Regions from separate parts of the Homo sapiens genome. Here region 1 is linked to region 2. Evidence: fine-mapped expression QTL. A gene starts in region 2. The other region holds a variant in brackets. All regions are shown on one strand. Distances are between the middles of the regions.

Region 1 (12,440 bases), 36 kb after region 2:
ACATACAAAGTGAGTGAAGAATCAGCTATTTAAAACATATAGCGCTGACGGCCGGGCATGGTGGCTCCTGCCTGTAATCTCAGCACTTTGGGAGGCCGAGGTGGGTGGATCACTTGAGATCAGGAGTTCGAAACCAGCCTGGCCAACATAGTGAAACCCCATCTCTACTAAAATTACAAAAATTAGCTGGGTGTGGTGGTGCATGCCTGTAATCCCAGCTACTTGGGAGGCTGAGGCAGGAGAATCACTTGAATCCAGGAATTGGAAGCTGCAGTGAGCTGAGATCATGGCACTGCACTCCACTCTGGGCAACAGAGTGAGACTCCACCTCAAAAAAAAAAAAAAAGAAAGAAAGAAAGAAAAAAAAGAAAACAAAACAAAACAAAAGAAGGGCCAGACGTGGTGGCTCACGCCTGTATGTAATCCCAGCACTTTGGGAAGCTGAGGCAGGTGGATCACCTGAGGTTAGGAGTTCAAGACCAGCCTGGCCAACATGGTGAAACCCCATCTCTACTAAAAAATACAAAAAATTAGCCTGGTGTGGTGGTGGGTGCCTGTAATCCCAGCTACTTAGGAGGCTGAGGCAGGAGAATCACTTGAACCCAGGAGAAGGAGTTTGCAGTGAGCAAGAGAGATCGCACCATTGCACTCCAGCCTGGGCAACAAGAGCGAAACTGTATGAAAGAAAAAAGAAAAAAGAAAAAATATGTATATAGCACTGAAGTAGTCATTATGGGAAAATGAGAATCTTGCTGGACTTCACACTTATGAGTTTAAAACTTTCTTTGTCTACAATTTCCTGCCCCCATATCCCCCTTCCTGCTAGAATATCAGTAGCAAAAGGGCCTGTCTTGATGATGGCTCTATTCTTTCTTTGCACCTGGAACGGGGCTGGGCACGTAGGTCCACAGTGGCCGTTTGTGAGATGAAAGAATGGCCTCAGTGCTGAAGATCTCAGAAGCTCTTGCAAACTGCTGACCTGAGCCTCTTAGATGGGAAACTGGGGCTGGGAGATGGGCCCAGGGGCTCCAGGCCTGATGACTGCCTGCGTGGGCCAGCGCTGGAGAGGAGGGTCCGGCTGCATCGGAGGGGCTGGGGGCTGGGAATGCCGATGGCCGATGACCAACCCCTGCTTACGTGCACAGGCCCACGACAATGATGAGCCGGGCACCAACAACAGCCGTCTGCTCTTCAACCTGCTGCCTGGCCCCTACAGCCACAACTTCTCCTTGGACCCTGACACAGGGCTCCTCAGAAACCTGGGGCCCCTGGACAGAGAGGCCATCGACCCCGCCCTGGAGGGCCGCATTGTGCTGACAGTGCTTGTGTCTGACTGCGGCGAGCCTGTCCTCGGCACCAAAGTCAATGTCACCATCACTGTGGAGGTAAGGCCTCGCTTAGCCAGGATGGGCCTGGGGGCCTCCCAAGCCGATAGCCAGCCCCTCCAGCTTGAGTCACACTTCTGCCCTCTGCAGCCAGCCTGCCTGGGTTACAATCCCGCTCACTCGTATGGCCCCAGGCAATTACTCAACCTCCCTAGGCACTCAGGCTCCTCATCTATAAAACGGGGGTGAAAAAGGTTAAAGATTAAGTGAGTTAATGAATGGAAAGTGCTTGGTAGAGTGCCTGACCTATAGACAGTATCAGTGAATATCAGCTCTAATTGTCACTCATAAAGTCCCACCTGAAACCCTCCTGTCTCCCTGCCACCATTGAAAAGCAAAGGGAAGGGGTGAAAATCAGCATTGCTGGTGTCTATTGCACATCAGGGCATCCGCCAAGGTTGGGATGGTTATTACCATTTTGTTTTTATTTATTTATCTATTGATTTATTTATTTTTGAGACAGGGTCTCCCTTTGTCACCCAGGCTGCAGTGCAATAGTGCCATCATGGCTCACTGCAGACTCAACCTCCCAGGCTCAAGCGATCCTCCTGCCTCAGCCTCCTGAGTAGTTGGGACTATAGGCATATGCCACCATGCCTGGTTAATTTTTTTATTTTTGTAGAGATGGGGTTTTTCCATGTTGCCCAGGCTGGTCTTGAACTCCCGAGCTCAAGCGATCCACCCGCCTTGGCCTCCTAAGTAGCTAAGACTAAAGATGCGTGCCACCATGCCTGGCTAATTTGGCTAATTTTTAAAATTTATTTTTCATAGAATCAGAGTCTCACTTATTGTCCAGGCCAATTTTGAACTGTTGGCCTCAAGCGACCCTCTCAACTCAGCCTCACAAAATGCTGGGATTACAGGCATAAGTCACTGAGCCCGGTTTATTACCGTTTTATTGATTGAGCAACTGAGGCGGGCCTAGTTGCTGTGGCTCATGCCAAAAACCTCAGTACTTTGGGAGGCCAAGGTGAGAGGATTGCTTGAGCCCAGGAGTTTGAGACTGGGCTGGGCAACATAGCGAGACCCCATCTCTACTAAAATAAAAAATTAGCCAGGCATGGTGGCATGTACCTGAAGTCCCAGCTACTTGGAAGGCTGAGGCAGGTGGATCATTTCAGCCCAGGAGGTTGAGGCTGCGGTGAGCTATGATCATGCCACTGCAATCCAGCCTGTGAGACAGAGCAAGACCCTGTCTCAAAAAAAGAAACTGAGGCACAGAGAGGTTCAGTACCTTGCCTGGGGGTCACAAAATTGGGTTTTGACTTCAATCAGTCTGGTTCTAAGGCTGCCACCAGCCCACAAGGCACCTTCCTCTGGAACAGTATTGTGACAAATGTGCACCTCTGCCGTGTCTGTGATGTGGATGGCACCCCATAGGGTTGTGCAGTGCACAGCCTGCACCACTGCACATAGCAGCCCTGTGTCCCCTGGACTGGGATGTGCCATTTTCACACAAGGGTCAGAGAGTGAGACCTCAGAAATGAAGAAAACGAAGCAGAATGAGGACTTGCTGGTTGTCCTTAGGGTGGGAGGGCTGCAAAGAGAGAACTTCATTTCCTGAGTGAACAGGTTTCTTCACCCCTGTGAGCCGTCCTCACAATTGCCCTATTAGTGGGGACTACTACCCCATTTTGCAGATGAGGACACTGAGGTCCAGAGAGGTCAAGGTCACACATGAGGCAGAGGTGGAGCAAGATGTGACTCAGTGCTCTTATCCACTCCTGTGAGTTAGGGTGACCTTGAGAATGCAGCTGGTCTTGTGCGTGGAGCCAATGATGTCATCGCTGGGAAATTAGCAGCAGAAAAGACATCTAGCTAAGGTGCAAGAATGTTGTCTTCCAAATGTTCATTCTAGGGTTATTCAGAAAAACAAACACCTGTTATGTGACCCACAAACCTGGGAAGGGCTGGAGTGCTCAGGGCATCCCCCAAGCACATGCCAGTGTTAGGAGACATAGGGGAGGGCAGAGTCACCTCCAGGCTGTGACAATAGTTGCAGGGCTCCAGCTGTGCCCAGTGGGCTAGGGCTGGCCACAGAGGTGAGAGCCAAAAACAGCTGGTGTCTGAGGCAGGAGCAGGTCTAAGCTTCTGCAGGTCCCCGGAGCCCAGCTCTGACTGAGCACAGAGCTGGTGTTGTGGGCTCAGTTGTGTGCAGGAGGGACAGGGGTAGGAGGGGACAAGGGAAAGTGTGGGCCTTGGAGCCTTTGTGGACATATAATGGTATTGGTGCCAACACAATAAATCCGAGAGATGGGAGTCAAGCTGGGCCAGGCAGGGTCGCAGGTGGGGACCCAGAACTGTGCTTCTAGAAAGCAGGGTCTAGAACAAGTCCTGAGCTGTGGTCAGAGAAACAGGAAGCAAGCAGGGCTTCCTGAGGATGGATGTGTAAGGCCAAGGTCCCACTGTAGGTCCCTGAACCCCGGGTGTGTGACCTGGGCAAGTTCCCTCCTCTCAGAGCCTGTCTCCTCATCTGGGAAGTGGGCAGTGAGGTCTGAGGCACTAGTAGAGTCCATGCCTTGGAGCACAGGGATTATTGGTTTCTCGGATTGGCTCTGGGGAGGGTGAGATTGGATCCCGGGGACTCAGACCTGTCTCTGACTGCAGGACATCAATGATAACCTGCCCATCTTCAATCAGTCCAGCTACAACTTTACGGTGAAGGAGGAGGATCCAGGTATGTGCTCCCTGGGCCAGGAGAGACACTGCGGCTGGGACCCAGTGTGGCTTTGTCAGGGTGGACCTCGAGTTCCAAGAGAGGCAAGGGCAGAGGAGGCTTCCGATGGCGGGGTCAGGAGTCCTTCTGAGCTCTGCCCCTTGTCCACAGGAGTGCTAGTGGGCGTGGTGAAGGCCTGGGACGCGGACCAGACGGAAGCCAACAACCGCATCAGCTTCAGCCTGTCGGGGAGTGGTGCCAACTACTTCATGATCCGAGGCTTGGTGCTGGGGGCTGGGTGGGCTGAGGGCTACCTCCGGCTGCCCCCGGACGTGAGCCTGGATTACGAGACACAGCCCGTCTTCAACTTGACAGTGAGTGCTGAGAACCCAGACCCCCAGGGGGGTGAGACCATAGTAGACGTCTGCGTGAATGTGAAAGACGTGAACGACAATCCCCCCACCCTGGATGTAGCCTCACTCCGGGGCATCCGTGTGGCTGAGAATGGCTCACAGCACGGCCAGGTGGCTGTGGTGGTTGCCTCGGATGTGGACACCAGTGCCCAGCTGGAGATACAGCTTGTGAACATTCTCTGCACCAAGGCCGGGGTCGATGTGGGCAGCCTATGCTGGGGCTGGTTCTCAGTGGCGGCCAACGGCTCTGTGTACATCAACCAGAGCAAAGCCATCGACTACGAGGCCTGTGACCTGGTCACGCTGGTTGTGCGGGCCTGTGACCTAGCCACGGACCCCGGCTTCCAGGCCTACAGCAACAATGGTAAGGCAGCCTGTCCTTGCAGGGCTTGGCAGGCCATAGCTTAGGGGCCGCGGGAAGGAGCCCTGGGCTGGAACTCACAAGGTCTGGGCTCAGATCTTGGCTCCAGCCCTTTCCAGCTGCAAATACTGGGAAAGTCCCAAACCCTCTCCAAGCTTCAGTTTCCCCATCTGTCCAGTGGAGTTGGGCAGTGGGGTGGGCTGTGAAGATTCAATGAGAATATGGATGTATGGCATTTATTGCAGTGCCTGGCATGCAGTAGCATCAAATTAATGCCATTATTTTACAAGATGCTGTGAAAGAAAGATAACACTGCAGAGCTAGATGTGTGCTTGTATCCCACTTCTGACACCAAATAGCAATAATAATCACATTAACAACTAGCATATATTGAGTCCTTATGACAGCCAAGAACTACACCAGGCACCTTGTAAGAATTTTTCCACTTCCACACAACCCATGGGGTAGGTGTTCCCTATCCAATTTTATAGATGAGGAAACTGAGGCAGAAAGTGGGTATTTAAACAACCAGCTTATATAGTTAGAATGTGTCAGTATAATGTCATAGGTGAGATCTACCTAGGCTGGGCCCAATCCTGGCCCACCACTATTGCTGTGTGACTTTGACAAGCTGCTTATCTGCTCTGAGGTCTGGGATGATACTCCCACCCACACAGGCCAGAGAAGACCGATCAGGCATTCTGGGTCAGGAGCAGGGAAGGGGACTGAGCATGGGGGAACACATGGGAGAGAAGCTGCGGGGCATGGGGTTGAGGCTGCGGGGCACGGGGTTGAGGCTGCGGGGCACAGGGTTGAGGCTGCGGGGCACGGGGTTGAGGCTGCGGGGCATGGGGTTGAGGCTGTGGGGCACAGGGTTGAGGCCCAGGCTCTTTGGGTCAAGCTTTTGCCCAGAGCCAAAGCCAGCTGACCTTGTCTCCTAGGAAGCCTCCTCATTACCATTGAGGACGTGAATGACAATGCACCCTATTTTCTGCCTGAGAATAAGACTTTTGGTAAGCAGCAACCCCATTCACACACCATACCCCTGCTCCATAAGGCCGCCTTTGAGCAACCCCGACAGACCCTCCTTGGACCCCAGGGGGAGCCTTTAGAAAGGGGGGAAGGCCTCTAATCCTGCATCTTCCTAGGGCTGCAATAGGAGAGGACATTGGAGTTTTCTTTTTTCTTTCCTTTTTTTCTTGAGACGGAGTCTTGCTCTGTCGCCCAGGCTGGAGCGCAATGGTACGATCTCAGCTCACTGCAACCTCCGCCTCCCAGGTTCAAGCAATTCTCATGCCTTAGCCTCCAGAGTAGCTGGGGCTACAGGCATGCGCCACCACACCTGGCTAATTTTTGTATTTTTAGTAGAGACAGGGTTTCATTGTGTTGGCCAGACTGGTCTTGAACTCCTGGCCTCAAGTGATCTGCTCGCCTTGGCCTCCCAAAGTGCTGGGATTATAGGCATGAGCCACCATGCCCAGCCAACACTGGAGTTTTCATTCCAGCTCTGTCCGACCTAATGTCTGGCCCTGGGCCAGGACTTCCCTCTCTGGGCCTCCATTTCCGCATGGTCCTGTGGGCCTGTGACCTCACCTGTGACAATGGGAGGTGGATGACTTGCTAACTACTGGCCCAGTGGTGGCTGTAATAGGGGTCTCTTTTGGTAGAGAGGTTGAGGGCAGGTTTAGGGGGATGAGCCCTGAGCTGGGCTCGTGACCAGCCTTGGTCCAGGTGGGCAGTGTCCCGACCCCGCTGACCCCGTTCCCGTTCACACCTGCAGTGATCATCCCTGAACTCGTGCTGCCCAACCGGGAGGTGGCTTCTGTCCGGGTAAGTTCTTGGCTCCAGCCTTTGTTGGTCATATGAGCCCCAGGGGACACAGGGCTGAGGCCTTCAGGCCTTCCATGGTAGAAAGAAAATATATGGGCTCCAACACATGAAAAAGAAAACCCCAGAAGGGAAACCAACACCTGTCTAATCAATGTAATCAAACTTCACTGTGATAAATGTAGCATTCATAAAAATGTCATGACCGTAAATACCACTTGCAGTCCAGATATTTCTTACTATACCAGAATTCTTGAGTAATACAGAGAACTCATAGCTAATTGTAAATTAAGCCAGTGCCTTGTCATTAAATAATTCTCAGAGCCAGCTGGGCACGGTGGCTCAAGCCTGTAATCCCAGCACTTTGGGAGGCCAAGGCAGGTGGATCACCTGAGGTCGGGAGTCTGCGACCAGCCTGACCAACATGCAGAAACCCCATCTCTACTAAAAAATACAAAATTAGCTGGGTGTGGTGGTGCATGCCTGTAATCCCAGCTACTTGGGAGGCTGAGGCAGGAGAGTCACTTGAACTCGAGAGGCGGAGGTTGCGGTGAGTCGAGATCACGCCATTGCACTCCAGCCTGGGCGACAAGAGTGAAACTCTGCCTCAAAAAAAAATAAATAAATAAATAAATTATTGGAGCCAAGTCATAAAAAGGCTTTCAGCTGTTTATGGTGTTGGATGTGGCAAGTTTATTAGGGGTGGTGGCCATGCCGTGTGGGGATGAGGCTTCCCACACCACCGAGGGCTGGGCCTGGCTGGGCTTCTTACTGACCTGGAGAGCTGCCTACCCTCTCTGGGACTCCGTTTCCCTGTTCAACAAGAAGCTAGCAGTTCCCAGAAGGTGGCATGTGGGTGCCATTCCCTATGCTTTGGAAAGGACATGGGTACAAGAGATGGACAGGGCTGGCCTTCCCCACTTAGAGCCGAGTGTAAGGACAGGGTCTCTCGGAGCCTCAGCTTCCTCTTGTAAAATGGGGATAGTAATTCTCCCTCTCTAGGTTGACGTTCATGCTAGAGACAGTGACTGTGTGACTTTCAAGTCTTAAGACAGCTTCCCAATCTTCTGCCAATTTGGTTCTAATGTCAAGAGTTTAGCCACGGCAATTTTCTTTAAATAGATTCCTTTTTAAGACCTAAGCACTGGTGTTGGCCTATCCTTAACAGTAACGTTGGTGAACTCGAAGCTCTGTGTGCTGGTTAAATTTTTCTCTAAAAGGCACTAGAATGAATAAAAATGCTTGTGTCCCCTCCCCAACCAGCTTCATGGTCTACTAGGGGAATTGGTACTCCCCGCACGGAAATGAGGGATCCCAGGGGAGGTGCTTAGGAAATCTGAGCATCGCTGTGTGTGTGCACGCCAGTGTGTGTGTGTCTAAGTGTGAATGTGTGTGCCTGAGGGTGTGTATAAGGGTGAGTGAGTGTATGTGAATGTGTGTGACAGTGTGTGGGTATGTAGGTGATTGTGGGTGTGTATGTGTGTGACTGTGCAAGTGTGTGAATGTGTGTGAATTGAGTGTATTTGTGTGAGTGTGTGTGAATTGAGTGTGTGGTGAGTGCATGAGAGAGTGAGGGTGTGAGTGTGTGTGTCAGGATAAGTGTGTGAGTGTGAGAGGGTGTGTGAGTGTATGTGAGTGTGAGAGGATAAGTGTGTGAGGGTGTGTATGAGTGTGTGCATGTGTGTGAGTGTGTTAGGGTGAGTGAGTGTATGTGTGAGTGGGACAGTGTGTGAGAGTGTGTGTGAGGGTGTGTATGAGTGTGTGTGCATATGTGTGTAAGTGTGTGTTAGGGTGAGACTGAGTGTGAGTGGGACAGTGTGTGAGAGTGTGTGTGTGTGAGAGGGTGTGTATGTGAGAGAGACTGTGTGTGTGAGTGTGTGTGTGTGAGAGAGAGAGAGAGTATGGCAGTGGAGGGGTGTAGGGGGAGCAGGGCAGGATTTCCACATGTGAGGGACTTAGGGCAGTGATCTGTTT[G/A]GAGTTGGGGAACAGGGGCAGGTTCTTGTCCAAATCTGGATTTGCAGAGCAGACACACTGTTTTTTGAAACCATTTGCTTATTCGGGGCAGCGTGGGGATGGCGGATAGAGACGGTGAGGGCCAGCCTCCCAGGCCACCCTTGCCTCTGATCCCTGCTGGGGTGGAGGGATGCCTGGCCTGGCTGGGCCCCCAGATATTGTCCACTCTTGCTCCCAGGCCAGAGACGATGATTCAGGGAACAATGGCGTCATCCTGTTCTCCATCCTCCGAGTAGACTTCATCTCTAAGGACGGGGCCACCATCCCTTTCCAGGGTGTCTTCTCGATCTTCACCTCCTCCGAGGCCGACGTGTTCGCTGGGAGCATTCAGTAACTGCGGGCGGCCCCGGGAGGGAGGTTGCGGGGAGGGGCCCGATAGGAGCTTTCAGGCAGCAAGTCCCCCATCCTGGAGGTTACAAGGGTCCTGAGGATTCAGCTTGGGTTCCAAGACTGACCTGCGCCTCCCGCCTTCCGCAGGCCGGTGACCAGCCTCGACTCCACTCTCCAAGGCACCTACCAAGTGACAGTCCAGGCCAGGGACAGACCTTCCTTGGGTCCTTTCCTGGAAGCCACCACCACCCTGAATGTGAGTGCTGGTCCCACCTCCAGCCCCCAACGCCCTCTGCCAGCCCCCAGGGTCCCTGGTGCCTCATCTCCTGCACACCCCCTTCCCAGCTCTTCACCGTGGACCAGAGTTACCGCTCGCGGCTGCAGTTCTCCACACCGAAGGAGGAGGTGGGCGCCAACAGACAGGCGATTAATGCGTAGGTCTGGGGAGCCCCGGAGGGAGGGGTAGGAAGAACAGGGTGTAGGAGCCTGGTCCCCGACAAAACCTGGATGGGATGTCTCTCAATCCTGTTCCTGACCCACATTTGACCTTGTCCCTGTCTTCAACCCTGTACTTTCACCTGCACGACGTTCTTGCATGTCCCCAGAAGCCCATACCCAGCCAAGGGCAGAGGGAAGCCTTGGAACAAGGCTGCCGTGTACAGTTGTGAAGGCTGTGTGTTGCACAAGGGCACTCTGCTTGCTAAGCTATTCACCCAGCCCCAGAGGAAGGGATTTCCTTTTGTAATTTTCACAGAGATGCTACCTACTCAGCCAACAGAGCTGTCCAGAGGAGGTGCCCTTTCTCACTCATACAATTCTTAATCCCACTGGCACAGCCCTGGCCACAGGCCCAGGCTAAGACCCCAGGCCTCTGTGACATCTGCCTTCTTTGCAGGGCTCTTACCCAGGCAACCAGGACTACAGTATACATTGTGGACATTCAGGACATAGATTCTGCAGCTCGGTGAGTGCCCAGAGGCCTGGGGGTGGGGTTGAGGGGGAGAAGCGGTAGCAGGAGGGGCCTGCTGGGTGATCCAGGCTCCTGACTCTTCAACTCTGTCCCGCTCCAGGGCCCGACCTCACTCCTACCTCGATGCCTACTTTGTCTTCCCCAATGGGTCAGCCCTGACCCTTGATGAGCTGAGTGTGTGAGTGGGGCTGCCCTTGGGGCAGGTGTGAGGGTGAGCAGGAAGCCTGGGGTGTGCCAAGGTCCCTCGGGCCTAAGTGGAGTTCTGTGGCCAGGATGATCCGGAATGATCAGGACTCGCTGACGCAGCTGCTGCAGCTGGGGCTGGTGGTGCTGGTGAGTGCGGGCAGGGCGGGGCAGCAGGTGGGGCTGCTGAAGACGAGTGTGCTTCCCTCACACTCATCTTTCTCCAGGGCTCCCAGGAGAGCCAGGAGTCAGACCTGTCGAAACAGCTCATCAGTGTCATCATAGGATTGGGAGTGGCTTTGCTGCTGGTCCTTGTGATCATGACCATGGCCTTCGTGTGTGTGCGGAAGAGGTGCGGCTCCCATTGCCCCCGTGTCTCCAACCTTCACCCTCTCCCACCACCCAAGACGTCGGGGGGTAGGGGTAGAAGGAGCTGGGGCTTAGGCACAGGTATACATGCATTCACTCCCCAGTGACCCAGTGCGAGATCTTGGGTGAGTCACCTCCCCTCCACGGGCCTCAGTTTCCTTATCTGTGAAAGGGCATGAGACTTGATTCCTCAGTGCACTCAAGGAAGTAACATGCATCTCACACCCAGCTAGACGTCTGGCACACACTATGCGTTTAATAGATGCTGCTGCTTTTTCCAACATGTATAGAGTCAGCAGCCGTATCTGGGCTTGACTTCAAGCCTTGTCACTGGCTATTTGACCTTTGGCAAATCACTTGCCTTCTCTGGCTCTTACTTCTACCCTCTGTAAAATAGAGCTAACACTCACCTCCCGGGATCTTGTGAAGCCACAGGCTCAGGGCCTCCACTGGGGACACAACAGGTGTGCAGCAACAGTGTGACCCCTCTTCCGGTTCCCCACAGCTACAACCGGAAGCTTCAAGCTATGAAGGCTGCCAAGGAGGCCAGGAAGACAGCAGCAGGGGTGATGCCCTCAGCCCCTGCCATCCCAGGGACTAACATGTACAACACTGAGCGGTGAGCAGGGGTCAAAGGGTAGGTAAGAGGCCTGGTGGGGTGGCTGAGGGCCAGGCAACTTGACCAGGCTTTCTCTCCAGAGCCAACCCCATGCTGAACCTCCCCAACAAAGACCTGGGCTTGGAGTACCTCTCTCCCTCCAATGACCTGGACTCTGTCAGGTGAGCAGTGCCCCTCACAGCCAGGCTAGGTGGTGGTGGTGGTACAGGTAGTGACGGTGGTGGTGGTGATGGTGTTGGTGGTGATGATGGTGATGACAATGGTGATGGTGTGGTCATGGTAGTAGTGGTAGTTATGGTGGTGGTGGTGATGGTAGTGAGGTGATGGTGATGGTAGCAATGGTGACAGTGGTGATGATGACAACAATGATGGTGGTGATGATGGTGTTGGTGTTGAGGTGATGGTGATGGTTGTGATGGTGATGGTGGTGATGATGGTGATGATGACGATGGTGGTGGTGGTGGTGGTGTTGGTGTTGAGGTGATGGTGATGGTTGTGATGGTGATGGTGGTGATGATGGTGTTGGTGTTGAGGTGATGGTGATGGTTGTGATGGTGATGGTGGTGATGATGGTGTTGGTGTTGAGGTGATGGTGATGGTTGTGATGGTGATGGTGGTGATGATGGTGATGATGACGGTGGTGGTGGTGGTGGTGTTGGTGTTGAGGTGATGGTGGTGATGGTAGTGGTGGTGGGTGATGGTGGTGGCAATGGTGATGGTGGTGGTCATGGTGGTCATGGTAGTGGTGGCAGTTATCGTGGTGGTGGTGGTGATGGTGGTGGTGATGGTGATGGTAGTGATGGTGATGGTGGTGATGATGGTGATGATGACAATGATGATGGTGGTGGTGGTGTTGGTGTTGAGGTGATGATGGTGCTGATGGTGATGGTGGTGATGATGGTGATGATGACAATGATGATGGTGGTGGTGGTGTTGGTGTTGAGGTGATGATGGTGGTGATGGTGATGGTGGTGATGGTGATGGTGGTGGTGGTGGTGTTGGTGTTGAGGTGATGGTGGTGATGGTGATGGTAGTGATGGTGATGGTGGTGGTGATGGTTATGATGATGATGGTGGTGGTGGTGTTGGTGTTGAGGTGATGGTGATGGTGGTGATGATGGATGATGACGGTGGTGGTGGTGGTGTTGGTGTTGAGGTGATGGTGATGGTGGTGGTGATAGTGATTATGATGATAGTGGTGGTGGTGGTGTTGGTGTTGAGGTGATGGTGATGGTGCTGATGGTAGTGATGATGGTAGTTGTGATGATGGTGGTGGTGGTGATGGTGATGATGGTGGTAGTCGTGGTGATGGTGA
Region 2 (11,167 bases):
CCGCCCGCCTCGGCCTCCCAAAGTGCTGGGATTACAGGCGTGAGCTACCGCGCCCAGCCCCGAGTTCTTTCTAGGGTGGGAGGCTGTGAGTCTGTGACATCACGGGGATATTCTTGGGCTGGTTCCTTGTCTGTAAGAGCAACGAAGGGACTTTGTACCCTGCAAAGTGCAACTTCCGGGGATGATTGGGAAGTTGAGGGGTTGAATGCATTCACACCAGAGTCACTCTCAGCCCAGACTCTCCGGGTCACCTCTAAGGCTGTGCACTAGGTGGGCGTCAGAGGTATTACAGGTAAAGAAATGGCGGCTCAGAGGGAAGGAGAGACTTGCCTAACTTCAGGGCAAGCTAACGCTTGATTTCAACTTGATAAATTTCTGAGTATGCAGTGGGTGCACATAGCAGAGACAGGTAATGAGAAGTTTTCTTTTTTCCTTTTCTTTTTTTGTGGGGGGTGGGGACAGAGTCTCACTCTGTCACCCAGGCAGGAGTGTAGTGGTGCAATCTCGGCTCACTGCAATCTCCCCCCACCCCACCTCCAGGTTCAAGCGATTCTTGTGCCTCAGCCTCCTGAGCAGCTGGCACTACAGGTGCACGCCACCACGCTGGGCTAAGTTTTGTATTTTTAGTAGAGATGGGGTTTCACCATGTTCTACGTTTCACCATGTTGGCCAGGCTGGTCTTGGACTCCTGGCCTGAAGTGATCTGCCTGCCTCAGTGTCCCAAAAGTGTTGGGATTACAGGCGTGAGCCACCGCACTCGGCCGAGAAGTTTTTCTGATTAAAAAAAATTTTAAGGCACACACTTCAGACAGTGGCTGTGAAGGAACCCTGATGTGTATCTAAACTGTCGCCTCGTGCACATCACCCCATTACTTACTCTGTGCTAAGTGCTGTCATGCATTACATCATTACTCCTTAGAACAGGCCTATGAGGTGGAGTCTGCATTAGGCCCATTTTGGACAAGGACACCAATAGTGTGGGAGGTGGTGTACCTTGCCCAAGCCCCCAGCAGGTAAGTGGTGGTGGGGATTAGGACCCAGGTCACTTGAGTCCATATCCTGGGCTCTTAGTCCCACTCTGCCTGGCTGCCTGCTGCTCCGTGAAGCCAACCCTGGACCTAGACCTGGACCTGGATCGTCATAGCCCAGATCCCTGTGTGCTTCCCAGGCTGCCTTGTGGCAGGTGGATGGTGCCCCTCGAGATGGGCAGGGCACCATCTGGCCACACGTGCCTCATCGTGATGGGTCCAAAGGTCTGGGCAGGCCAGGACACACCTCTGTCAACCAGAGCAGTGACTCAGAGCTGTCGGCCTCAGCCGTAAGGGCAGGGAGAGGGGGCAGGGGCTTGGGTTGGGGTCTGCCCTATTTGGGGCACAGCAGAGCGACCAGGCTGACTCCCATGGTCTGAGGCAGAGCGGGGAGCCTGGAGCCTTGGGTGGGGTCACCTGCCTCTCTTCTTACTGGTTAAGCCACCAGCGATGACTAGTGCCTACTTCCTTCAGAGAGGAATCTGACGGCTGTGGCAGGAAAGTCAGGGGCAAGAATTGTTGCACAGATATGCTAATATCTCAGTTCTGCCACTTTCTGTAATCTCGGGTGGTGATCTAATCTGTCTAAGGTCTATTTTCCCATCTGTAATGGGGAAAAAAATCATCCCTGGAGTTATTGGCAGGATTAAATGAGGTGATATTAGTAATGCAATAGTCACCACCATGCCCCCACGAAAACTAACATTCATTGAGACCTTATTGTGTTGGGCATTGTGCTCAGGACTTCAAATGGGTGACTTCATTACATCCTCACCATCACCTGCCCAGGTAGGCATCATGTATTACCTGCAACTTACAGATAAGGAAACCGTCTTAGAGAGGTTATGCAACTTGCCCTGCCAAAATTGAACCCATTGTGAATATACAGTAGATAAAAAAAATAATAAAAATAAAATGAAATTAAAAATTGTGGCTGGGCAGGGCGGCTCACACCTGTAATCCTAGTACTTTGGGAGGCCGACACGGGTGGGTCACCTGAGGTCAGGAGTTTGAAACCAGCCTGGCCAACATGGTGCTCAAAAAAAAAAAAAAAAAAAAAAAAAAATTGAACCCAGCAGTCTGACCCCAGAGGAGCCTGGTCTCTGGTCTCTTAACCCCTGCATTGTAATAGTCGCATCGAGCGCTACCCAGTGTCTGCAGCATCCTTTCCTCAGAAACACTTCTCAAAAAGAGGAAAAGCCTCTTGGGTATCAAAACTCAGAACTGCATCATAGCTCCCAGAGCCTGGCTATACGCAAAGTGGTCTTTTTGGTCTTTTTTTTTTTTTTTGAGATGGAGTCTTGCTCTGTCACCCAGGCTAGAGTGCAGTGGGACAATCTTGGCTCACTGCAACCTCTGCCTCCCGGGTTCAAGTGAATCTCCTGCCTCAGCCTCCTGAGTAGCTGAGATTACAGGCACCTGCCACCGTGCACAGCTATTTTTTGTATTTTTAGCAGAGACAGGGTTTTACCATTTTGGCCAGGCTGGTCTCGAATTCTTGACCTGGTGATCCACCCGCCTCAGCCTCCCAAAGTGCTGGGATTACAGGCGCGAGCCACCAGCCTATGCAAATGTTTTAAAATGGATGGATGCTGGACTCAATGGATCTCAATTCCCTTTTTTCTTTGCCTGGGGGGAAGCTCAGAACCTGATTCATGACCCATCTCTACAATTACCCAGAACTTGAAGGCAAATATATATATATATATAATTTGTTTATTTTTTGAGAGAGAAGCTCTTGTTGTCTAGGCTGGAGTGCAGTAGCTATTCATAGGCACAGTCTCACTACTGATCAGCACCTGAAGTTTGACCTGCTCTGTTTCTGACCTGGGCTGGTTCAGCCTTTCTGAGGCAACCTAGTGGTCCTCTGCTCCTTGGGGTTCACCATATTAGTGCTGAATTTAGTGTGGACACCCCATCAGCATAGTGCCCTACAGCACAGAAATCCTGGCCTCAAGCCATCCTACTGCTGCAGCCTCCCAAGTAGCTGGGACTACAGGTGCACAGCAGTGCCCCCAGCTCAAGACAAGTATTTTATGGCCTCAATTCAGGCGTAGATTACCCTTATTTTTCTCACTTGACTTCCCTTCATCTGGGTTTCTTCTTTTTATGCTGGTGGCGTATAAATTTTGTTACTATGTTTTACATTTGGAGAGTTGGGAAGCAAACTATTAAAATGCCTGACTATAGCAACTGCCTGATATACAGTCAACACAACCCTTAACAACGGGGACACCTTCTGGGAAATGTGTCATCAGGCAATTTCGTCATTGTGTGAACATCACACAGTGACTTACACAAACCTAGGCGGTACCACCTACTACACACCCAGTCTCTATACCACCGCCTGTGCTCCTGGGCTGCTAACCTATGCAGCCTGGGACTGTACCGCACGCTGCAGGCAACTGTAACACAGGGGTAAGTATTTGTGCATGTAAACACAGAAAGGGTGCCATGAAAGATGATATTATACTCTTATGGGACCGCTATTATATGTGTGGTTCGTTGTTGACCAAAACACAGATATATGGTGCATGACTATATATCTATTGTGAATTAGACATGTCCTCTGCCCACAAGAAGAGGGCCACCCAATGGTGACGACTCAGTGGTGTGCCTTAAGAAAGTTGTGCCCAGGGTCCCCTTTCTGTGTCAACTGTGATGGCTGGGCCAAAGTGAGGATAAGAAGGACTTGTGGCTGAGCCCCTTCGGGAGGCCACCACATCGGGCAGCGCTTAAAGCCAGCCTGGGGGCCGAGCTCCGTGGCTCATCCCTGTAATCCCAGCATTTTGGAAGGCCGAGGCAGGCGGATCGCCTGAGGTTAGGAGTTCGAGACCAGCCTGGCCAACATGGTGAAACCCTGTTTCTACTAAAAATACAAAAAAAATTAGCCGGGTGTGGAGGCCCACGCCTGTAATCCCAGTTACTCGAGAGGCTGAGGTAGGAGAATTGCTTGAACCCAGGAAGCAGAGATTGCAGTGAGCCAAGATTGTGCCACTTCACTCCAGCCTGGGTGACAGAGCAAGACTCTGACTCAAAAATAAATAAATAATTAAAAAAAAAAGGCAACTTGGGAGTGGATGAAGCCCCTGGGGACGGGCAGATGCCTTTTGAGGGTCTCAATGCGGGGTGAGATCAGTGTCAACAGGCTCGAAAGTGGGTTGTCCAGGCTCAGCTAGCCCCCAGTCCTCCACGAGAACCTCACAGGGGCTGGTCTGGCCACACAGTGTTTGATTGTTACACTGTTTTACCACTTCCCTCTCCTGACTCAATCCCCCACTTGTCCACAGATCCCCTGTCACTGAAGACTCGTAGCAGGGAGGGGACGGGGGCTCTGGCATCACCTTCTGACTGTCACCGTCCCCGCCTCCAGCCTGCCCCAGTGTTGGGCCTTGTTCCCAGGTCCTCTGGGCTCAGGGTCGGCCAGGCCCCTTCTCCTGTGGTGTGGGCCTCCAGCCCCAGGAGCGCCAGGAGCTCTGGCGCCTTGGTCCCTTCCTCCTGTCCGGCGCCCCCAGCTGTACTCTGCCTCATTAGGAGTCGACCCCTCCTGGGAGGTGTGGTCTCTGGCAGGGTTAATGATTGCTCAGTGGAGGTGGAGATGGTGCCAAAGTCTGCTGGCCACATAGCTGCAGGCCGCAGAGGGTGCCCACCTGTGTGCCAGCGCCTGTCCGGCGCCTGCCTGCCGCCTCCGTGGCGAAGGGGACACAGGTAGGGACTATCCAGCTCATCGGGGGTCTCTGGGCCAGAGAAATGTGGGGGTTGGGGGGATCCCTAGAGCCAAGGCAAGCTTGGGGGTCTTTAAAAGTCTCCCCTGAAGCTGGGCAGGGGAAGTCACACGCTAGATGGGGCAGAGCCGGGTCAGGTCCCAGCCTGCTGTGAGGCCTGTTTCTTTGGTAAACATGGGATAATAATACCTCCTTCCCTGGGGGCTGATGGCCCCCTTCCCATCCAAGTCCTCAAGGGATGATTCTTCAGAGGATGGAAGGGAGGCAGGCACCCCAGGGAAACGAGGTAACTGGCCTGACCCCTTCATAGGATGCTCAGGGGTTGAGGACGGGGAAGCTGACCTGGGCTCTTACCCCAGCTGCTCGGTTCACATCCCAGCTCCACCCTGACCTTGGTGGGCTACTTAACTCTTCTGGGCCTCCGTTTCCTCATTTATCAAATGGGGATGAGAAGAGTTCCAGAAAGGGCCTGAAAAGCCCTGAGGCAAAGGTGAGCATGTGGCCTATGACCGAGCCCAGTGCCACCTCAGCCAGTGCTAGGAAGTGTCAGGCAGGGACTGACCCAGGCTGGCCCCAGCTCTGCCCAGTCCGGGCCTTGCACATCTCTCTGCCCTGGTAGAGGAGGTGGTGACCCAGCTGAGAGTCGGGGCCATGCTGCGTCACTCAGGCAGGCCTGTGCTGGGTTGGGCACCAGGCACAAGGCAGGGTCCCAGTGAGCACCGAGGTCCGGCAGATGGAAACAAGTCATGGCCCGTGTGTAGACCCCTTGATTTTTATCCTCACTCTGCTTCTCAGCAGGGGAAACTGAGGCCTGGAGAGGGGAGAGGGCTTGCCTGGGGTTGCACAACAAATATGTGAAATGCTGCCATCTGAACCCAGGGCTGTTTGAGTCTGTATGTGTCTGCTGGGCCAGGTGGCCTGGGCCATAGGCACTGGGAGGGCCCGTGGCGGGGAGCTGCGTGCTCAGGTCCCACATCCTTGCTCCGGGCACCCAGGCTCGGCTGGAGTCCGCTCTGTGGGTGCAGGCACGGCCTCCTGGATCAACGGAGCCCAGACCAAGGCTTGCCCAGGGACCCCTGGATTTGGAGGCAGCCTGGGTCTAACCTGCTGCCCCTGGCTCACCCATCTCTGGGCATCTATGAGCCTCGGTTTCCTTGGAATAATAGGATAGGATAATTCCTGCTTGGGAACAGCTGTGAGAAGTAAATGAAAAAGCAGAAGTGAAAGTGCATGGCGAGCTGGCCGTGTAGCGGTGGCGGTGCTGGGGGAGCTCTGTAGCATCGTGGCTGAGTGCACCCCGGGGGCTCCCCACACTGAAGGAGGACCCACCTCCCCACCCTGACCCTCCTGGAGGTCCTGGGCAGTCCGGGTATCCTCACTCCCAGTGGTTCCAAATTCTAGAAAATCTTGGCACCGTGGACTGCTCTGAGATGCGGCTGAAGCCTCCTCTCAGCCAAGGCTGAAGAGCTGGCACCTCCTGGGCCAGGTGGGACCAGTGAGGATTCCTGGAGACTACACATCTCATGGCGTGGGGGCCAGAGTCTCCCTGATTCTTCTCTGTGTCCTTTTTGGTCCTTCCCTAAGCACTTTCTTTTTGAGACGGATTCTCACTCTGTTGCCCAGGCTGGAGTGCAAGGCGCTATCTCGGCTCACTGCAACCTGTGCCTCCCTGGTTCAAACGATTCTCCTGCCTCAGCCTCCTGACTAGCTAGGATTACAGGTGCACGCCACCACGTCTGGCTAATTTTTTTTTGTGAGATGGAGTCTTGCTTGTCGCCCAGGCTCCAGTGCAGTGGTGCGATCTCAGTTCACCACAACCTCTGCCTCCTTGGTTCAAGTGATTCTCCTGCCTCAGCCTCCCGAATAGCTGGGATTACAGGTGTGCGCCACCATGCCTGGCTAATTTTTGTATTTTTAGTAGAGACAGGGTTTCACCATGTTGGTCAGGCTGGTCCAGGCATTTTTTGAGAGCAGGGAAACAACAGTAGTGGCCGGAGGGCTTGAGAACAAGGAAGCAGTAATTTCTGGAATATAGATAGTCCCCATTTTAAATTACTTTATTTTATTTTTATTTTTTGAGACAAGGTCTTGCTCTGTCGCCCAGGCTGGCGTGCAGTGGCGCGATCTCGGCTCACTGCAGCCTCAACCTTCTGGGCTCAAGTGATCCTCCCACTCTAGCCTCCCAAAGTGCTGGACTGTGTTTGCTCCTTTAAAAAATGAGAACTATTGGTATTGGCCTGGACTGCCACCACACCTAGCCAAGAGTTCTCTTTTTTTTTTTTTTTTTTGAGACAGAGTCTCGCTCTGTCACCCAAGCTGGAGTGCAGTAGCGGCATCTCGGCTCACTGCAAGCTCCGCTTCCCGGGTTCACGCCATTCTCCTGCCTCAGCCTTCCAAGTAGCTGGGACTACAGGCGCCCGCCACCACGCCTGGCTAATATTTTTTTTTTTTTTGGGGAACTTTTAGTAGAGACGGCGTTTCACCATGTTAGCCAGGATGGTCTCGATCTCCTGACCCCGACCCCGTAATCGGCCCGCCAAAGTGCTGGGATTACAGGCGTGAGTCACCGCGCCCGGTTAATAGTTCCCATTTTTAAAAGGAGCAAACAGAGAAAAGAGCCCAGGGGTACGGTTGTGCAGTGACTGGGACCTTGTTTCACACCCATGCGTTGGCCTGAGGCTGCCCCAGCAGGGAAAAGCGGGTGCCTGTCCGCAAGTCCCAGCCCAGGGGCAACTCCATTCACTCGGTTTCCATTTGTGCCTTGCTCCTGCCCCTTGCTGGGGTACCAGGAAATGAGGAGCCCAGAGTGGGGGCCACCAACTGCCTGAACACAGCTCCACAGCTGATCTGGGCCTTACAGAATGGAGAGGATTTGCATGTAGGCAGAAGGCAAAGAAAGACATTCTGGGCAGAGGGAATGGTTTAGGCAAATGGAGGAAGGACAATGCAGGGTGTGGACCGAGAACAGGAGCATTCAACACCACTGGACCTCAGGAGTGGGAGAGAGCAGCTCGTGTGGAAAAAGCAAGACCCAGGACCTCCAAGGACCTCGCCTGTCAGGCTGAGGGGCAGGCAGTGTGTCCTGCAGCCAGTGGGAGCCATGGAGGAGATTTGAGCTTGGGAGTGACCTATCATGGGGAAGGCTTAGCATTGGGGCAGGCCGTTATTGCGCCTTCGCCAGCCCACACAGACACTGTGCTTTTTCCCCAAGTGACTGAATCCAGAGGCAGATGCTCTGGACTGTAGAACGCCAGCCTCATCATGATCATGAGGAGGCAGGACTGCGAGAAACCCGGGGCCAACCCCAGCAGAGCAGGAGGCAGGCGAGGCAGGGATGAGGCAAGAAAGAGCACTGGCCTGGGAGGCAGACAGGGTGGCACCCCCACTCTGCCGCTGACAGCCTTGGAGCTGCTGGGCAGGAACCCTGGCCTCCTGCACTCATGTCTGTGTGCATAAAGGGGATTGATGAATCCAGCTCTTCCTTCCAGGGGGATGGCTGGGCCCACATGCAGGGGAGAGACTGTGCGTGCATCACACAAATGCAAAGGGGCATCGCTGTTGCTCTGAGTGAGGGTCCCCAGGCTTCTTGAGGCCCTCCATCCTGCCCTGTGAGATGGGGAGGGGGGAGTTGGGAGACACTTCCATGAGGGAGAAGCGTGGCGTGTATGGGGAAGGGGCTGTAGGGGGAGGCGCCTCGGGGACTGGGTGAAGGTCCTGGTTCGGGCTGTTCTCTCTCAACATCACATGTTTGTGGGCTCAGCATGACCTGTGGGAAAATCGGGCAGCTCAAGAAGGAAAACCCAGGAGCCTAGAAAAGAGAGAAGGCACAGGCCTGGCTTGGGTTCTGCCCATTACTGGCTGGGCCGCGCCCTTTCCCCTCTTGGACGTCAGTTTGCTGAGGACTAAATGGTAATGGGGGCAAAGTGCTAGCCTCGGTACACGGCCCTTCCTTGCCAGTTCCCATTTTCCTCTGGGACTGGGAGGAGGGACCCTGAGGGCAGGAATCTCCTGTCCTGCAGGCTGGACCCAGGGGAACTTTGTAATGATGATGAATCCATCTTGATACCTGCTGGCTGCACACCTAGTGACTAATTGTCCCGTGGCAGTTGACTCATTTCTGAAGGACAGAACATGAGAGAAAAAAGTGAGGAGGGAGGTAGGTTCCAGGTTACAGCCTCAGAGGGATGCCTGGGCTGGACGCATCCAGCCCCTGGCTGTTCCTTACACAATGGACACCTGCAGTCTAGCAGTACCGCTAATGCCCAGCTCACCTGCGTCTCCACCGCCAGCCCCGCCACCACCACCATCTCCCTCCCCCAACTGTCACCTCCACCAGCGCCACCTGCGTCTCCACCTTCATCAGCACACACATCATCAGCATGTCCGTCCCTACTTACCACCACCAGTGCCACCCCTACCCCCGAGGGATCCCTATCCTGATATTGGACCCTGCCTCCATGACCACCTCACTCACTGCCCTTGACTCCAGCGCTATGATGTCACTCTCCAGGGTGTAGCTGTACCCACATCGCTGTCCCTGTCTCACTGAGGACTGTGGCTCAGCACTGCTGGGGGTTCTGAGGACTGAGAACTTACTAATTCCCCTGAGCGGTGGGGCACATCTGTATTTATCAGTCTGGCTGAGTGCAGCCCTGCCGTTCAGCATGTGGGCTGTCCCCAGCTGTCATCTCCGGGGTTCTTGGCAAGCCAGCATTTTCCACAGCAACTTCCCAAGGTTCCCCTGGCTAGAGTCACATGGAAGGTAGCATGAGAAACAGCCCCAGGGCTCCTCCACACACAGCCCTGGCCCTGCCCATTTAGCTCTGACCTCTGCAAGCAGTCTCAGACCCTGGGGAGCGTGGATGGTCACCAGGGAGGGAGGAAGCTGTTTCCATGGTGATTGCAGTGGGAGGAGCAGCCATAAGGTGAGGACAACCCCACGGAAGGAAGAAGGTTTGCACTTGCTGAGCGCCTATTGTGTGCCAGGCGCTGAGGTGGCACATTCTTATTCCCACTCATCCCCCGCTGCCTACCCTCATCACTTAGTGGGGTTATTATTCTCACAGGGGAGGGAACGCTTAGAGAAGGGCAGTGAACTGCCCAGCGAAGCTCTGCTGCTCCTTGACTCTGTAAACTCAAGCCAGGCTCTTCACCTCTCTGAGCTTTGTTTTCCCCATCTGTAAAGTGGGTAGAATGGTACCAATCTAGAAGGGTTTTTTGTTTTTGTTTTTGTTTTGTTTTGTTTTGGAGACAGTGTCTCGCTCTGTCTCCCAGGCTGGAGTGCAGTGGCACGATCTCGGCTCACTGCAACCTCCACCTCCCGGGTTCACACCATTCTCTGGCCTCAGCCTCCTGAGGATTACAGGCACGTGCCACCACACCCAGCTAATTATTGTATTTTTAGTAGAGACGGGGTTTCACCATGTTGGCCAAGCTGGTCTTGAACTCCTGACCTCAAGTGATCTGCCCGCCTTGGCCTCCCAAAGTGCTGGGATTACAGGTGTGAGCCACCACACCCAGCCTCGAAGGGATTTTGTGAGCATTACGTAGTGCCCGGCTCAAGTTCTGAGAGGCAGGAGGTGCTTCCTCCACGAGTCTCTTGCTATTCATTGCTGTAATGTTTAACGGTTGCCAAACATCCCACCCAGGGCTTGTCCACATCTTTCTACATCATTGCCTGTGTTTCATGTTACGGTCACTTCCAGCTTCCCATGATTATAAATAATCACTCACGGTCAACAACTTTCTGCAAAAAGAGCTTCTTATTCTATGTTAGTTGGATGAGTAGGTCAACAGGGCAAACATTTTGAAGCTTTGGGGTCCACATCTGAACTGGGGTTTTCTCCTCTTGCTAGGGCCCTGGGGCCACGGGAGGCCTGCCTCCTTCTCCCTGCCTCAGGGAGAGGCGAGGGCCTTGGGATCGGAGAGTGGCTGTGAATCCCACTCACTTTCAGCTGTGAGGGCCTCAGCGGAACACTCCCAGCAAGAGCCTGTTTGCTCATCTGCAAAATGAGTTGCTGTGAAGATGAAATTCTATGAATCCCAAATATTCTGCCTCCAAACTATAGCCCTGCTCTTGCCTCCCCTCCAGCCCTGCTGCCCCCAGTTCAGCCCGGCGACACACAGCAGCCAGAAAGGTCTTAAGAGGAAATTACTGCCTGCCACTCCCCTGCTTAAAACTCTGAAATGGGCCAAGTGCAGTGGATGGCTCACGCCTGTAATCCCAGCACTTTGGGAGGCCGAGGTGGGTGGATCACCTGAGGTCAGGAGTTCGAGACCAGCCTGGCCAACATGGCAAAACCCCATCTCTACTAAAAATAAAAAAATTAGCTAGGTGTGGTGGCTCACGCCTGTAATCCTTCGGGAGGCTGAGGCAGCAGACTCGGTTGAACCCGGGAGGCAGAGGTTGCAGTG

Direction of the effects. Alleles are on the strand shown, and positions count from the first base shown. SD is a standard deviation of normalised expression in the study named.
For the expression in prefrontal cortex of the gene that starts at base 4,664 in region 2, A is the low allele of the variant in region 1 and G is the other (small effect, 0.34 SD a copy in GTEx).

The links. PIP is the estimated chance that this variant, and not a neighbour inherited with it, causes the effect.
Region 1: its variant is the best candidate, but not a certain one, in a credible set for the expression of CDHR2 in prefrontal cortex (GTEx, PIP 0.68).

The regions. Positions count from the first base shown.
Region 1 is chr5:176,580,198-176,592,637 of GRCh38, forward strand. It overlaps CDHR2 (cadherin related family member 2), which reads left to right. Exons shown (of 32, transcript NM_017675.6): 17 at 1,146-1,385; 18 at 3,993-4,062; 19 at 4,213-4,818; 20 at 5,757-5,828; 21 at 6,596-6,645; 22 at 8,834-8,985; 23 at 9,133-9,241; 24 at 9,331-9,419; 25 at 9,881-9,949; 26 at 10,056-10,133; 27 at 10,228-10,288; 28 at 10,366-10,490; 29 at 11,013-11,126; 30 at 11,207-11,287. Among named protein-coding and RNA genes, the nearest start is that of GPRIN1, 24 kb to the right of the region's middle. The variant G/A (reference allele first, on the strand shown) is at 8,617.
Region 2 is chr5:176,544,679-176,555,845 of GRCh38, forward strand. CDHR2 (cadherin related family member 2) reads left to right here and starts at 4,664. Exons shown (of 32, transcript NM_017675.6): 1 at 4,664-4,736. It also overlaps the pseudogene RN7SL684P. RefSeq lists enhancers at 4,936-5,869, 7,518-8,151.